Linked DNA regions of Homo sapiens: region 1 is linked to region 2. Evidence: fine-mapped expression QTL. A gene starts in region 2. The other region holds a variant in brackets. All regions are shown on one strand. Distances are from middle to middle. Region 1 overlaps LOC105379412 (a long non-coding RNA gene). Region 2 holds the start of ELF2 (E74 like ETS transcription factor 2).

Region 1 (8,334 bases), 31 kb before region 2:
TTTTTTGAGACAGTGTCTGGCTCTGTCACCCAGGATGGAGTGCAGTGGCATGATCTCGGCTCACTGCAACCTCTGCCTCCCGGGTTTAAGCGATTCTCCTGCCTCTGCCTCCTGAGTAGCTGGGACTACAGGTACCCGCCACCACACCCGGCTAATTTTTTTTTTTTTTTTGTATTTTTAGTAGACATGGAGTTTCACTGTGTTAGCCAGGATGGTCTCGATCTCCTGACCTTATGATCCGCCCGCCTCGGCCTCTCAAAGTGCTGGGATTACAGGCGTGAGCCACCGTGCTCGGCCAGCATCTTAAAATTCTTAATAATTTTTGAGTTAGTACACAAGGGGCCCTGCATTTCATTTTGCCTTAGGTGCCATAAATTATGTAGCCAGTCTTTTGGGTGAAAGCATTGTCTTCAGAAGGGTCTTTTTTTTTTTTTTTTTTTTTTTGAGAAAGAGTCTCGATTTGTCACCCAGGCTGGAGTGCAATGGTGTGATCTTGGCTCACTGCAACCTCCACCTCCCGGGTTCAAGCGATTCTCCTGCCTCAGCCTCCCAAGTAGCTGGGATTACAGGTGCCTGCTACCACACCTGGCTAATTGTTTTTTATTTTTAGTAGAGACCGAGTTTCGCCATGTTGGCCAGGCTGGTCTGAAACTCCTGACCTCAGGTGATCCACCCGCCTTGGCCTCCCAAAGTGCTGGGATTACAGGTGTAAGCCACCGCACCGGGTCCAGAAGGGCCTTATTTTAAGAGCAAACAATTTACCTGGAAAACATACCGTATTAATAATATACCAGTTAACACATTCGCATTTTATCACATTAATTAATGTGTTAATTAGTTAATTAAGAAATCAGCACTCTGAAGGATTGAAGCATAGAACCTCTGAATTTTTTTTTTTTTTTTTTTGAGATGGAGTCTTATGCCACCCAGGCTGGAGTGCAATGGCGCAATCTCCGGTTCACTGCAACCTCCGACCTCCAGGTTCAAGTGATTCTCCTGCCTCAGCCTCCTAAGTAGTTGGGATTACAGGCATGTGCCACCACGCCCGGCTAATTTTTGTGTTTTTGGTAGAGACAGGGTTTTGCCATGTTGGCCAGGTTGGTCTGGAACTCCTGACTTCAGGTGATCTGCCCACCTTGGCCTCTCAAAGTGCTGGGATTACAGGCGTGAGCCACTGCGCCCAGCCAAACCTCTGATTTTTGATGTGGAAAACCATCCTGACTAGGTTCACAACATGAATACTACCTGCCTCCCAGGGTCTCTGAGAGCATGGGTGGGAGGAGGTTAATGAAGTGCACTGAACACCAGAGGACTTGACATATTTTTGTTCAATGTCAGTACAAATAAAATGGGTGAATAAATGAATAAATCAATAAATGTTAGGTGCTAAGGGGAAGAATGGGGAAAACACAAGACTCAAATTTATGTGTGTGTGCGTGTGTGTGTATGTATGTATATATATATTCTATAAGGTATAGGCATACAAATTTAGAGCTCCATCCTAAAGTAGAAACTAAATGATTGCTTCCTATCTGAGCTACTTTGGCTTATGGTATGCACTATAAGAAAAGCCATGCCCTGGGTTGGGCGTGATGGCTCACACCTGTAATCCCAACACTTTGGGAGGCTGAGATGGGTAGATCACTTGAGGTCAGGAGTTTGAGACCAGCCTGTTCAACATGGTGAAACCCCGTCTCTAATTAAAAAAAAAAAAAAATTAGCTGGGCATGGTGGCACATGCCTATAATCCCAGCTACTTGGGAGGCTGAGGCAGGAGAATTGCTTGAACCCGGGAGGTGGAGGTTGCAGTGAGTGAGATCATGCCATTGCACTCCAGCCTGGGCAACAGAGTGAAACTCATGTCTCAAAAAAAAAAAAAAAAAGAAAGAAAAGAAAAAAAGAAAAACCATCCCCACTCTCCTAGTCACAGCAAATGGGATTAAGGACTGAAGCACAGGCTGAAGGCAGTAGCATAAAGCATGATGAGGGCCAGCTGGCTTTGCAGCACTCTGGCAGGCACTCTTGTCCAAGGATGATACTCTGCAATAAATGATGACAAGTCCACTCAAATAAAACATCTCTTTTGGGAAATATAAATACTAGATATACCAAGAAGAAGATGAATAGTTTTAGATAAGATTGCTGTTATGAATAAAGATCCTGGTTCCTGTAGTACCTTTTGCACAATCTCATGAAATATAATGCAGCTGGATGAGGCAATTTCCAGAGCTACCTGCCTTTCTTGAAACCCCAAATCCTTATATATCCTTGCAATACACTCTGTCATTGATGATAACCCATGTGTGTGTTCCTTCAATCTTAAACAAGCTAGCTAATTCAGAACACACTAATAATATTGCTATAACAAAAAATTTTACAGCCAGGCAGGCGTGGTACCTCACGCCTGTAATCCCAGCACTTTGGAAAGCCAGAGGTGGGCAGATTGCTTGAGCTCATGAGTTCGAGACAAGTCTGGGCAACATGTGAAACTCCATCTTTGCAAAAAATACAAAAACTAGCCAGGTGTGGTGGCGCACGCCTATAGTCCCAGCTACTTGGGGGGCTGAGGTAGAGGGATCATTTGAGCCTGGGAGGTTGAGGCTGCAGTGAGCCATGATCATGCCACCGCACTTGAGCCTGGGTGACAGAGCAAGACACTGTCTCAAAAACCAACAACAAAAATCCAAAACAACAAAAAACAAATCTTACATAGACCAGGTGAAAGCAACCCCAATGTGCATTAATGGATGAATGGATAAATAAAATGTGGTATATATATATACAATGGAATATTATTCAGCCTTCAAAAGGGAGAAAATTATGTCACATGTTACAACATGGATAAGTCTTGAGGACACTATGCTAGGAAAAATAAGCCAGTTACAAAAAGACAATTGGTGTATGATTCCACTTATATGAGGTATATAGAGTAGTAAAATTCATAGACGCAGAAAGTAGAGGGTGGCTGCCAGAGGCTGGGGGGAGGAGGGAATGGGGAGTTACTGTTTAATGGGTATAGAGTTTCAGTTTCGTAAGTTAAATAAGTTCTGAATATCTGTTGTACAACAGTGTGAACCTACTTAGCCCTACTGAACTGATTAACACTTAAAGTGGTTAGGATGGTAAATTTTATATTATCTTTTTTTTTTACCACAATTTAAAACATTTAAATTATTTACATTTATATTTATTTTATTTTATTTTTTGAGACTGGGTCTTGCTCTGTTCCCCAGGCTGGAGGGCAATGATGGGATCATGGCTCACTGCAACCTTGATCTCTTGGGCTCAAATAATCCTTCCACCTCAGCCTCCCAGGTAGCTGGGACCACAAGCTTGAGCCACTGTGCCTGGCTAATTTTTTAAAAATTTTTTTGTAGAGAGAGAGTCTCACTGTGTTGCCCAGGCTGGTCTTGAACTACTGGGCTCAAGTGATCTTCCTGCCTCAGCCTCCCAAAGTGCTGGATTTACAGGTGTGAGCCACTATGCCTGACTGCTTTCTTATGAAATTGTGGCTTTTACCAAAATATACACTTTAAGATTGCTAAAATGATGTTAACCATTATGTACTATACTTAACTACTTTCACAGTGGTAGAGCTCCCGACACTTTTGGAGGATGAAGCAGGAAGATTGCTTGAGGACAGTAGTTCAAGACAAGCCTGGGCAACATAGTGGGACCTTGTCTCTACCAAAAAAAAAAAAAAAAAAAAAAAAAACCAAGTATGATGGTGCACCCCTGTAGTCCCAGCTACTTGGGAGGTTGAGGATGGAGGATTGCTTGAGCCCAGAAGGTGGAAGCAAAGCTGCAGTGAGCCCTGATCATGCTACTGTGTGACAAAGTGAGACTCTGTTAAAAAAAAAAAAAAAGAAAGCAAACTTATCTCTTAACCATGAGAATCCTATTGTGAAAACTGTCAGAATCAAAATGGAGTCACTTTTGTTAAAAGAAAGAAAGAAAACAACAACAACCAAAAAAAAAAAAAAAAACAAAAAAAAAACCCAAAAAACCAAACCCTGACAAATAGCGCTAGGGAAGGCCGTGAAGGAAGTGTTTTCTCATGAATAAATGCTGGATGACAGAAACTATTACAAAAGACTCTGCAAAAACCACAATCTTGCACAAAGGCCATCATGCAGATGTTCTGTGAGGACATCTGCTCAGCAACTGCCTGTCCAACCTTGGATTGACGTCACCCTTGTTATT[G/C]ATCTTTGTAGCCAAGGATAATTATCTCAAAACAATTATGTAATCCTTCTCATGTTTTCTTTAAAAACCTTTGTCTTTCTTTATGTGATGGTTAATATTAGGTGTCAACTTGACTGGATTGAGAGATGCCTAGATGGCTGGTGAAGCATTATTTCTGAAGGGTGTTTTCAGAGGAGATTGACATGTGAGTCAGTGGACTGTGAGAGGGTGATGCACACCCACCCACCCACCCTCAATGTGGGTGGGCACCATCCAATCTGCTGCCAGCGCGGCTAGAGCAAAGCAGGCGGGAGAAGGGATGTTCAGCTTGCTGAGCTCTCTCTCTCTCTCTCTCTCTCTCATTCTCCTTTCGCATGCCAGATACTTGCTTCCTTTCCTCCTGCCTTTGGACATCAGACTCCAGGATCTTCGCCTTTAGACTCTGGGACTTGCACCAGTGGCGTTCAGGGGCTCTTGGGCCTTTGGCCTCAGCCTGAGAGCTGCACTCTTGGCTTCCCTAGTTTTGAGGCTTTCAGACTTGGACTGAGCCACATTACCAGCTTTTCTCTTTCCCCAGCTTACAGAGGGCCTATTGTGGCCTATTGTGGGACTTTGCCTTTTAATTGTGTGAGCCAATTCTCCCTAATAAACTCCTGTTTTTACATACATATATCCTATTGGTTCTGCCCGTCTGGAGAACCCTAATACACTTTACTTTCCATGAATATGCATATTGTTTACTATGGCATGCATATTCCCACTGCAATGTCCTATTCCTGAATAAATATTTTCTTTTAGAGAGCCTCTCTCTGTTTATATATTTAGGTTGACATTATCTATAGGAATTACCACTTTTTGGGTATAAGACATAACCAAGACACCTTGGTTCCACTGTTGACAACATAGTTAAATTTGGTCAAGTGTCAAGGACACTTTACAAACTGAAACCTGTAAAGTGATGACTAATTTACCTTCACTTCTCACAGTGCGGATTGTCAGTTCTGGGAGTCTGCTTTGTCCATTTGAGTTTGGGTCATGGAGGACAGAAGTGAAGTCAAAGGCATGCTGAGGAAGGAACTCTGAGTGGCCATTCACAGTGTGTCCTTGACAGCACTTCCGTTCTCTATTTTATGAGTGTCTCTGCCCCACATGCTTCTGAACTAGCATTTTTACCCCTTCCCACCCAGTTATAGTCCGGTTAGAAGGAAATATGTTTTCCTCTGTTCCCCTCCACCACTGCAGCAAATAAAGAGAGGAGGCAATGGGAGTGTCATCAAAAAGACATGGTACAAATTTAAACAAGCATTCTCTTGTCAGAACAACTTTAAAAAATTTCAACATTGGTGTAACAAGATAGGTAGTATACCCTGTTTCAGGAGAAAGCAAGCAAACTTGGTTTTGTTGACCTATAAAAGACTGTTGACAGTCACTAAATCAGAAATATTAGGAATTTAAAAGATATTGGAAAATGAGACAAATCTTTTTCTTTTTTTTTTTTTTGAAACGGAGTCTCATTCTGTCACTCAGGCTGGAGTGCAGTGGCGCGATCTTGGCGCACTCCAACCTCCGCCTCCTGGGTTCAAGCAATTCTCCTGCCTCAGCCTCCCATGTAGCTGGGACTACAGGCACACGCTGCCATGCCCAGCTAATTTTTTGTATTTTAGTAGAGACAGGGTTTCACCATGTTGCCCAGGCTGGTCTCGAACTCCTGAGCTCAGGCAATCCGCCCACCTCGGCCTCCCAAAGTGCTAGGATTACAGGCGTGAGCCACCACGCCTGGCTGAGACAAATCTAATTTTCAGACATGCTGTTGTCAGGGTAATACAAATGAAGTCCTTTTGAATTCTACTAGGTTTGTTCCCAACAGTTTAAAGCTATTTCAGGCTGCTTGAGAATAACTTGCCTAGGTGTGTACTGAAAGATTTAAACAGAAGAGGGGCACCAAGTCAGAGAGCTTCAAACACCATGCTCACCAGAGGGAGGGGAGAGGGAGAGAGAAGATGGCATGAAGGGGAGGGAGAGGGAGAAAACTGAAGCAGAAGGATAGAGGGACAATTGGTGGATGAGAATTTATAATGAAACCCAATTGCAATTTGAAAAGGAAAACTGTAAGTCAGGAAGGAAGTGAATATTTGTGTGATTTCTCTTTCCATGCTGGAAAGCAACTGGGATTTGGTGCATAAGGTAGAATTTGTGAATGATGTTGCAAAGGAGGGGTGGACTTGAGAGGACTGAAAGAGGTAGACTGCATACTAAATATAAGTGCCAAGTGTAAACAAAGGAAAGAAGTAACTGAAAAGGTCCTTTCTGTGTTTCTTTTCTTTTATTCTTTTTTTTTTTTTTTTGAGATGGAGTCTTGCTCTGTCACCTAGGCTGGAGTGCAGTGGTGTGATCTCTGCTCAGTACAACCTCCACCTCCCGGGTTCAAGCGATTCTCCTGCCTCAGCCTCCTGAGTAGCTGGGATTACAGGCATGCATCACCACCTCCGGCTAATTTTTGTATTTTTTAGTAGAGACGGGGTTTCACCGTGTTGGCCAGGCTGCTCTGGAACTCCTGACCTCAAGTGATCCACCTGCCTTGGCCTCCCCAAAGTGCTGGGATTACAGGCATGAGCCACTGTGCCCAGCTCTGTGTTTCATTTTCTAAAGAAATGGACAAAAAGGCTGGACTATGAAGAAGCAAATAGTTTTTGTCTTACTGACATTTCCTTCCATTTTAATTTTTTTAACATGAAAGTCTTTCAATAAATTTTATAAAATTCTATTCTAGAAGGAAAAATATCATAGTTTATGCTTTTTTTCTACATTGGAAAATTACTTTTCAAATATTGTAGGTAAATTATTGGGAGGAGGGTCAGGAATTTAGTTTTTCCTGGTTAAATCAATAAAGTAAAACTTCATAACATGATAGAGCAAATTTTAGGGTCATACAGTTCAAAACAAATATTTCAATATCCCACTGTAAGAATAATTTCTTGATTTTTACATCTGAGATTTTCCTTCTCCAAGAGAACTGCCCACACTCTTCCCCACTGCAGGACATTTGAACAAGGGCTAAGCTCTTCCTGCTGTAAGAAAGCCTGTTCAGAGCAGCACTGTCCAGCAGAAATGGAGTGCCAACTCTGTGGGTAATTTTTAATGTTTTAGTAGTCACATTTTTAATTATTTATTTATTTATTTATTTTTTGAGATGGAGTCTCACACTGTCACCGAGGCTGGAGTGCAACAGCACAATCTCGGCTCACTGCAACCTCCACTTCCCAGGTTCAAGCGATTCTCCTGCCTCAGCCTCCCAAGTAGCTGGGATTACAGGTGCCTGCCACCACGCCCAGTTAATTTTTTGTATTTTTAGTAGAGATGGGATTTCACTATGTTGGCTAGGCTGGTCTCGAACTCCTGACCTCGTGATCAGCCTGCTTTGGCCTCCCAAAGTGCTGGGATTACAGGCATGAACCACCGCACCCTGCCTACATTTTTTAAAAAGTAAAAAGAAAGAGATGAAATTAATTTTTCAAGTATATTTTACTTTACTCAGTAATTCAAAATATTACCTGATATCAAGTCATCAATGAACAGTTATTAATAACCTATTTTACCTTCTTTTTTTAGTACTAAGTCTTTGAAATAAGGAGTATTTTACTCTTATAGCACATCTCAATTTGGACAAGCTACATTAAAAGTGCTCAAAAGCCACATATGGCTAAGTTGCTAGTGGACATCATACATCCAGAACGTATTTTTTGGTCATGGAAAAATACGCAACCAATCAGTTAAGCGGCAAATTTAATAATGTGTCTAAAATGCACAGCCATCTAATTTAAATAAGCCCAATTCTATGTTAACTTTTAAAATAATTTATTAACAGTTACTAAAATTACTGAATATCCTTTTCACTCCAAATGTTTACAGATTCCTTCCCCAGCCACCCACCTTTGGATATAAGAATAAGAAAGGAAAGTTTCAATGTGAAAGTAATTTTATTTTCATTTTCAACAAAATCATTAAACTACTTTTGATATATGTATCTGGGGATCAGGGAAGTCATTTGCACACTGTCTTTAGTAATTGCAAAGACAATATTCAAAAGCACTAAGGGTAAAAATCTGAGAGGCTGGTGTCTGAGGAATAGCAGTTGTTTTATAGCCTTAAAAC
Region 2 (8,334 bases):
TACATGCACAGAAAAAGGCCTAGAAGCTTAAAGGCTAAATTTTCATTTATGGTTATCTGTGGAAAAGTAGAGGTAGGGGATGGCTGCGTAAGTGTGAAGGGTAAGTGAGAAGTGGGAAGGGAAATGGAGAGGGAAGGTGAACTTGGGTTTTAAAAAGTTTATTTTGAATTATTTGAAAATTGATGATGAGAATGTATTAATGAATCATTGTATAATTAAAAAATAAACTATAATAAAAATAATTAAATAAAATATAAAAATAATTAAAAAATAAACTATATAACATAAAAAACTATATAACATAAAAAACAGCAAAAGCAATCCAGTTACAACAGAGATTTCCTATTCCATGATCATTAGCTTGCTACTAGGACTACTGGTCACACTAGACTTTTCCTTCTGACCCCTGTTCTCTAGAATGCTTTACTGTAAACCAGGGGTGTCCAATCTTTTGGCTTTCCAGGGCCACACTGGAAGAATTATTATCTTGGGCCACACATTAAATACACTAACACTAATGATAGCTGATGAGCTTAAAAAAAAAATCGCAAAAAAGTATTTTAAGAAAGTTTACAAATTTGTGTTGGGCTGCATTCAAAGCGGTCCAGGGCCGCATGCAGCCTGCAGGCCCTGGGTTGGACAAGCTTGCTGTAAAATTTCTGGGTTCCTTACTCCGCTGGCCTCCATAAGGGATGTGTTTAAGAACCATAGCCAAAGAGCTGCCTGAGACACACCAAGTTAGGCACCTTGCAGGCCAATATGAAGGAAGCAGATTGCTCTTTCTGCTGTTGTTTCAGTCAGCTATCACAACACTAATTCCAGGAACCAACTACTCCAAAACACTATTACTCCAAAACGCTATTACTCCAAAACACGGCTTGAAACAACAATCCTTTATTCTCTAGGTTGCTGACCCCAAGCTGGGACTGGCTTCAGACCTGCTTCATATTTCTTTGACCAGCAAACTAGCCAGGTATGTTCTTCACATTGTGAAAAACAAGAGTGCCAGAGAGGGAAGGAGAAACATGAAATACCTCTTGAGGCCAGGCTCAGAACTGTCACACTCACTTCTGCCTATCTTCCTTTGACCAAAAGCAAATGGACTGATCTAAGCTCAACATGAACAGGATGGAGAAACATCCTATCTCTACTGAGAGGAACTACAAAGCCGTATTTCAAATGGCATGCATGCATGGAGTAGTGAAAAATTGGGAACAATAATGTTATCTACCACTGTTATCCACCTGGGACTTTCCAGCTTACTGCCAATCGGCAGTGGGAGAGAATTTCTTCTCAACGTGGCTGACAACAGAAATTATGTGACTTGGCAGGTGATATCTGTCCCTAACAACAGGAATCAGTCTTTGTCTTTGCCGGCTCCTTAGTATGCTATGTTATGTTATGAAGATGCAATATTATTGATTATTAATTAATTCCTTACAAATATCAAATTGGGCAATGGTTCCCATAAGTGATAAGTTATTTACAAGAAGTGAGATAAAAAGACTCCCTTAGAAAGGGTGCTCTGTTTGCAGAATCCTGTTTATTGTGTATTAAAGATTTGAATGTTACCAAATTGTTACAAATTCTTTAGTTCAAAAGGGTGTCAACAGTCCCATGATTTAGAACTCAGGAATCCAGAAAACTTTGTCAAGAGTTAAGAGGATCTTTGATTAACAGTCACGGTCTCCAGGTTTCCTCTGTGTTCAAGAGTAAAAATTTCTTAAATAAGAATAAGAGCCCTCGGACTTGCTTTTTTTTGAGACGGAGTTTCGCTCTCGTTGCCCAGGCTAGAGTGCAATGGTGCGATCTGGGCTCACTGCAACCTCCGCCTCTCGGGTTCAAGCGATTCTCCTGCCTCAGCCTCCCGAGTAGCTGGAATTACAGGCACACACCACCACACCCGGCTAATTTTTTGTATTTTTAGTAGAGACGGGGTTTCACCGTGTTAGCCAGGATGGTCTTGAACTTCTGACCTCAGGTGATCCGCCCGCCTCGGCCTTCTAGAGTGCTGGGATTACAGGAGTGAGCCACCGCGCCCGGCCTTTTTTTTTTTTTTTTTTTTTTTTTGAGAAGGAGTCTTGCTCTGTCGCCCAGGCTGGAGTGTAGTGTTGCGATCTCGGCTCACTGCAACCTCTACCTCCGGGGTTCAAGCGATTCTCCTGCCTCCCGAGGAGCTGGGACTACAGGCGTGTGCCACCACGCCCAGCTAATTTTTGTATTTTTAGTGGAGACGGGGTTTCACCATGTTAGGCAGGCTGGTCTCGAACTCCTGACCTCAGGCAATCCACCCTCCAGGGCCTCCCAAAGTGCTGGGATTACAGGCGTGAGCCACTGCGCCCGGCCCAGAGTTGCTTTTTAAGAAAGGAAGAGAAGACTCACCCCCAAGAAAATAGAGGCAACAGCAGTATTAACAAAAGAAAGAGATCATTACATTCTTAGGCTCTTCAGGGATTTAAATCTGGAGCCTCCTGCAGCTTTCTGACATTTGAGCCTTACTCTAGGGTGATTTCCACGGTTCCCACGTCCCTTTCAAGAGAACAGCTATCACTTATATTCCTCAGTGTTTCTTCTTTGCTCCAGACTGGTTGTGAAGCCGTAAAAAGGGTAACGCTGGAGCCCAGAAATCAGCTGGTGAATACCGCGCCAGGTGCCAGGTCCATCGCGGCGAGGCTGCAGGAGCCCTGGAGGGGAGCAAAAGGAGCCCCGCGCGCACCGGACAGGCTGTGCTCTTTGTTAAAGAAACAAATACAGAAAACGCCGCGGCGGGGAATGGTGGTGGTGAAGAAATAGACTGAGGCGTTTGTATGCATTAACTGTGCCTACAAAGCCCATTAAAGAGACGCTCCTACACAGGGCAACCCACGGCACCGTGTCATTGGCTTTTGTGCACTTGAAGGCGCGTGAGAGTGCCCCGCTCGAAGGCTCCCCTTTGTGTGAAAGTGTGGAAACCAGAAGCGTGCAGCCACTGCTGGGTTTTCGTTTTCGAATTCGCAGGCACTTGGGCCAAAATACTCCCACACCAGAACACTCTCTCATTCTCGCACCAACAACACTCAGACTTGAGTTACTTCTCCGTTGCGGACCGCGCAAGGAGCGACAATGGCTAGGTGCGAGTGCCCGCAGCTCCCCGGGCAGCTCCAAGGGGCCGCCCGCCGCGCTCCGCAGCTGCGCGCTGGGCCCAGCCACCCGACAGCCAGCAAACGCCGGCACCAACCGCCGCGCGGCCGGGCTGTTGGGCGGGTGGTAATTTCTGGGAATGGGGCGGGGTCGCGGGTGTACTACGCCCGGCTTTTGCTAGCGGGGAGGAGGAGCTGGCGGCGCCGAGGGGCGCGAGGCTGGCGGGGCGGTGCGCCACGTGCGTCACCGGCCGGGGCGGGGCCGGCGTCGCGCTCCTGCCCGAACCCCCACCTTTCACTAAGCCAAGGCTGAGGAGTGGGAACTGGAAAGACCGGGCTAGGAGTTTTTGCAAAACCTCGCCCCCCTGTAACTGTCAGACTGCCCGACTGTGGGGCCGTCTCCGGAGAAGGGCGAGAGTCCTGAGTTGGGGATGCGGTGACGGCGGGGCCTGCGGGGGCCCTGAGTGGCGAGGGTGTGTGCGTGCGGTCCCGGCCGGCGGGGGAAAGCCGGCGGGCGCTGCAGGTGCACGCGCGGCCCCATCGGCCTCACACGCCTGCCCCGTGCGGCAGAGCCCCCTGCACCAATCCGGGGCTGGAGTGGAGAGCGAGATCGGGGAGCCCTGGGCAAGGAGCCGGACAAGTGACGAGCGTCTTTACCTGGGAAGGCGGGTTTGGGAGAAGTTGGGCGAGGAGAAGAGGGCGGGATTCAAGACAGCAAAAGAAGCAGGTTCGGCGGGCTGGTGGGGGCCCGAGGGCGGCGGGGCCCCGCGGGGTATAAATAGCCGGCCCGCGTTTGACAGGCGCTGCGGTGACTGGCGGTGCCGCCCCCGCCCCCCCGCCGCGTGGGGAGGGGAGGAGCACTCTGAGCTGGCGGGGAGGGGGAGGCGGACTCCAGTGTCCTGGTGGAGGCGGCAGGAGGCCGAGGGGGAGGAGCCGAGGCGGGGGGTGGAGGGAGGGGGCCGGGAGCGGAGCGGGGCGGGGGCAACCATTGCTCCCAGCGCCAAGCTCTGTGTCGCCGCCGTCGCCTAGGCGGTTGGGGGTCGGTGGGGCGGCGCGGGCGGGGGTCGCTGCGCGGGGCGGCGAGCCTCTGTTTTGTCTCCTTCTCTCCCTGTGGAGCGGCTCGGGCTGCTGGGGAGGCCCCGGCTCCCTCCGGACGCTCGGCCAACGGCGGCGGCTAGTCCGCGGCCCTGCTGAGAGGGAAAAGGACGCCGCGGTCTTCCCAGGCGTCGCGGAGAGCAGGTAAGAGCGCGGGCAGCCGAGGCTGGTGAGAGGGAGCGCGAAGGGCGCGGCGATAAAGCCTGGCTGTCCCGACTGCCGCCGCCTCCCTCCGCGCCCCCGCCCCGCGCTTGTGTTGTTTGCTTCGGGGTTTGCGGAGGGGTTTTCCGGCGGCTGCGGCGGTGACACCGGCCGGGGGCTGGGGGAAGGGGGCTGAGTGTCCCCAGGCAACGGTCGCGGAGCGGGACTTGGAGAAAGGGGAAGGCGCGCTGCGCGCCTGCCCGCGGGGAGCGCGGGGCGCGGGGCAGGGCTGAGGGAAGAGGTTACAGACCCCGGCGGGGGGGATGGGCCGAGCGCAGCTGGTCTCTCCGTGTTTACATCTCTGCGCGAGTCACCTCTGCCGAGAAGCGGACTGAACTGACCCGCCTCATCCCGCGGGGAGGCCAGGGCGGGGGTCCGGCTCCGGAGGAAGCGCGTCCTGGGAGGGTTTGTGTAGGGCGGGAGTCTGCGGCCGGCGCCGGGGCTGGGCGGCGAGCTCGGGGCGGGACCTGGGAGGCTCCGGCCGCTCTGGGTGGCGGGCAGGCGGGGGGGGGCGCTGGACACCAGTTTCCTTCCCTGTCGTGCCTTATCGCCGCCGCTTACCTTTCCTTCCCGGCGCTGCTAGCTTGCACGACAGGTTGTACTCGGCAGTTCTTTTATTCTCGCTCTCCACGCCGGCACCGTGCTGCCATCTCCCCCTATTCCCCGGGAGGTAGGGAGGCTTTGCTCGGATCGGAATCTGTTTCTTAAGCAAAACAAAAACGGGCTCGTAACAGGCACGTCCAGTGACCGCCTTCTGGATCCTCGCGAAGCTGGTCCTCAGGGACCGCGCGACGGGATGGTCTAGGGGCGCGGAAGGAGGACAGGGAGGGCTCTGCCAGGGCTGGATGCTGACTCTACCCCAGGAGCTTTGTGATCAGGGTAGCCGAGCCCTCTCTTCTGCTCCATTTGGGCATTTTTATTCCATGTCCATAAAGGACTCAAAAAATATTCCGTGACACCAAGAATAATCCAGATCGCACAGTTTCTAATCTTTTTCCCTCTGCCAGCATCCTGGATGGACTCTTTCTAGGAGGCAGATTCGCTGCAGAATAGCCTTTAAGTTTAGTACTTCATTAAATGAGGAAGAGGGGGACACGTCATTGTAAAACTGTTAAAAATTCCCCCCTTTCTTGTGTTCATGAACATTTACTTCAGCTTAATGGTTTAAATTGTAATCCGGTGATGAGAGAATAGTAATCGTGTGTTTGATAATCAGATTTGTTTTCCTTTTTATCTGTGATTCTCTATCCTGAAGTAAATTATGCACTTTCTTTGGTGCCAGAATCACGGAAGGATGTATGCTTTACTAAGAAAGGATTGGATATTTGTGTTTCAGAGTTTCTTCAAAAGGTAGAATGACTTATATAGGACTGGAAACCATTAAATTACATTTAAGGGAATTTAGGAATAATAAAACTTTTTATAGAGCATTACAGTTTACAGAGTACATTCATGTAAATATTATTGAGACGATATCTAGTAGTTAAACACATGAAATAGAAAATTGGAATATCCTGGGCATTTGAAGTTTGAATATTTATGTCAACCTATTTTTAAGTTTAGTGATTTAACTCATTGGATTTATCATTGCCTTTCATTTCAGACATAAATACTCATTTACAAAATAGTCAGCTTGAGTATGGTTGGAAAGAATTTGTAACTTTGGGATTTTTCTGTCCTAAGTAAACAGATTGGTACCTGTGGCCTGTAGGGTCTGCTAATGTTAGTGGCTTTACCTGCTCATGTTGTATACCATTTTTGGAGGAGTAACAGCTTCACGATGATATAATTCACATACTAGTCAGTTCAGTTTAAAGTGTACAGTTTGGTGGGTTTATTAATTTTTTAAAAAATTACTCCATTTTGCAGGTGAACAATTCAGTGGTTTTTACTACAATTGTCCATCGGTATCTGTTGGGGATTTGTTCTAGGGCCTTCCTCAGACACCAGAATCTATGGATGCTCAGGTCCCTAAAATAAAATGGCATAGTTGCTGGGTGCAGTGGCTTGTGCCTGTAATCCCAGTTATTCAGGAGGCTGAGGTGGGAGGATCTCTTGAGGCCAGAGTTTGGACACCAACCTGGGTGACAGAGCAAAATCCTGTCTCCTAGGAAAAATGAATAAAACTGACATAGTATTTGCATATAAACTCTGCATATTCTCTTGTATGCTTTAAATCATCTCCACATCACTCATACTACCTAATACAATGTGGATGCTATGTAAATAGTTGTTATACTGTGTATTGTTTAGGGAATAATGACCAGAAAAAAGTCTGTACATGTTCATTTACAGACATAATTTTTTTTTGAGTAGTTTCTGTACCTCATTGATTGAATCCATGTATTCAGAACTCATGGATATGGAGGGCCGACTGTATATTCAGAGTTGTGCAGCCATCACTATACTCAATTTTACAGCATTTTAATCATCCCCCAAAAGAGCCCCATATCCATTAACAGTCGCTTTTCATTTTCCCTCAGCACTCCCAGTCCTATGCAACCACTGATCGACTTTCTATCATTATAGATTAGACTGTTGTGGACATTTTATGTAAATGAAACCATAAATGCGGTCTTTTGTGACTGGCTTCTTTCGTTTAGCATAATGCTTTCAAAGTATATCCATGTTGTAATATGTGTCAGTACTTCATTTCTTTTTTTTTTAAAATCTATTTTCTTTCTTTCTTTTTTTTTTTTTTTTAAGATGGAGTCTCGCTCTGTCGCCTAGGCTGGAGTGCAGTGGTGTGATCTGGCTCACTGCAACCTCTGCCACCCGGTTCAAGCGATTCTCCTGCCACAGGCGCATGCCACAACACCTGGCTAATTTTTTTTTTTTTTTTGTATTTTTAGTAGAGATGGGGTTTCACCGTGTTAGCCAGGATGGTCTCGATCTCCTGACCTCGTGATCCGCCCGCCTTGGCCTCCCAAAGTGCTGGGATTACAGGGGTGAGCCACCGCGTCCGGCTAATCTATTTTCTTTTTTATAGAGATGGGGTTTCACCATATTACCCAGGGTAGTCTTGAACTCCTGGGCTTGAGCAATCCTCTCTCTTTGGCCTCTCAAAGTGCTGGGATTTCAGGCTTGAGCCACTGCACCTGATCCTTTTTAATTAAAAAAATTTTTTATAGTCTTTTTTTTTTTTTTTTTTTGAGACGGAGTCTCGCTGTGTTGCCCAGGCTGGAGTGCAGTGGCACGATCTCAGCTCATTGCAACCTCCGCCTCTCGGGTTCAAGCGATTCTCTTGCCTCAGCCTCCCAAGTAGCTGGGACTACGGGCGCGTGCCACCACGCCCGGCTAATTTTTTGTATTTTTAGTAGAGATGGGATTTCACTGTGTTAGCCAGGATGGTCTTGATCTCCTGACCTCATGATCCGCCTGCCTCGGCCTCCCAAAGTGCTGGGATTACAGGTGTGAGCCACTGCACCCACCCTGTAATCATTTTTTTTATTGATGAGTAATATTCTATTTATGGACATATTACATTTTATTTATCTGTGCATCAGTTGATGGACATTTAAGTTTCTATTTTTTTGGGCTATTATGCTGCTATGAATATTCATGTTTTTGTGTAGATGTGTTGTCATTTCTTTGGGTATGTACACTTTTTAATAAATTAGCTTTTGACTTACCTGATACCAAAAAAATTATCCATTTTGAGTATATAATTCAATAATTTTTAGTAAATATATAGATCGTGAAACTATCTATCACCTTGAGCTAGTTTTCGAACATTTCCATTGCCTCCAAAATTCCCTCCAGCCTGTTTGCAGTTAACCCTTATTCCCACCCCCAGCCTCAGGCAATCACTGATTGGTTTTGTCTTAATCCATTTGCTTTTACTGGATATTTTGTATAAGTGGAATTGTACAATATGTAGTCTTTTGTATCTGGCTTCTTTCACTTAGCATAATGTTTT

Evidence for each region. PIP is the estimated chance that this variant, and not a neighbour inherited with it, causes the effect. A credible set is the group of variants that fine-mapping cannot tell apart.
Region 1: its variant is the best candidate, but not a certain one, in a credible set for the expression of ELF2 in whole blood (TOPMed, PIP 0.62).

Annotation. Positions count from the first base shown.
Region 1 is chr4:139,204,339-139,212,672 of GRCh38, reverse strand. The region is part of intron 1 of LOC105379412 (a long non-coding RNA gene); the gene reads right to left. Among named protein-coding and RNA genes, the nearest start is that of ELF2, 31 kb to the right of the region's middle. The variant G/C (reference allele first, on the strand shown) is at 4,204.
Region 2 is chr4:139,172,991-139,181,324 of GRCh38, reverse strand. ELF2 (E74 like ETS transcription factor 2) reads left to right here and starts at 4,107. Exons shown (of 10, transcript NM_001331036.3): 1 at 4,107-4,358. LOC105379412 (a long non-coding RNA gene) reads right to left here and starts at 5,170. Exons shown (of 4, transcript XR_007058273.1): 1 at 4,977-5,170. RefSeq lists a cis regulatory region at 2,646-2,770, silencers at 3,137-3,516, 3,527-4,486 and an enhancer at 5,087-5,136.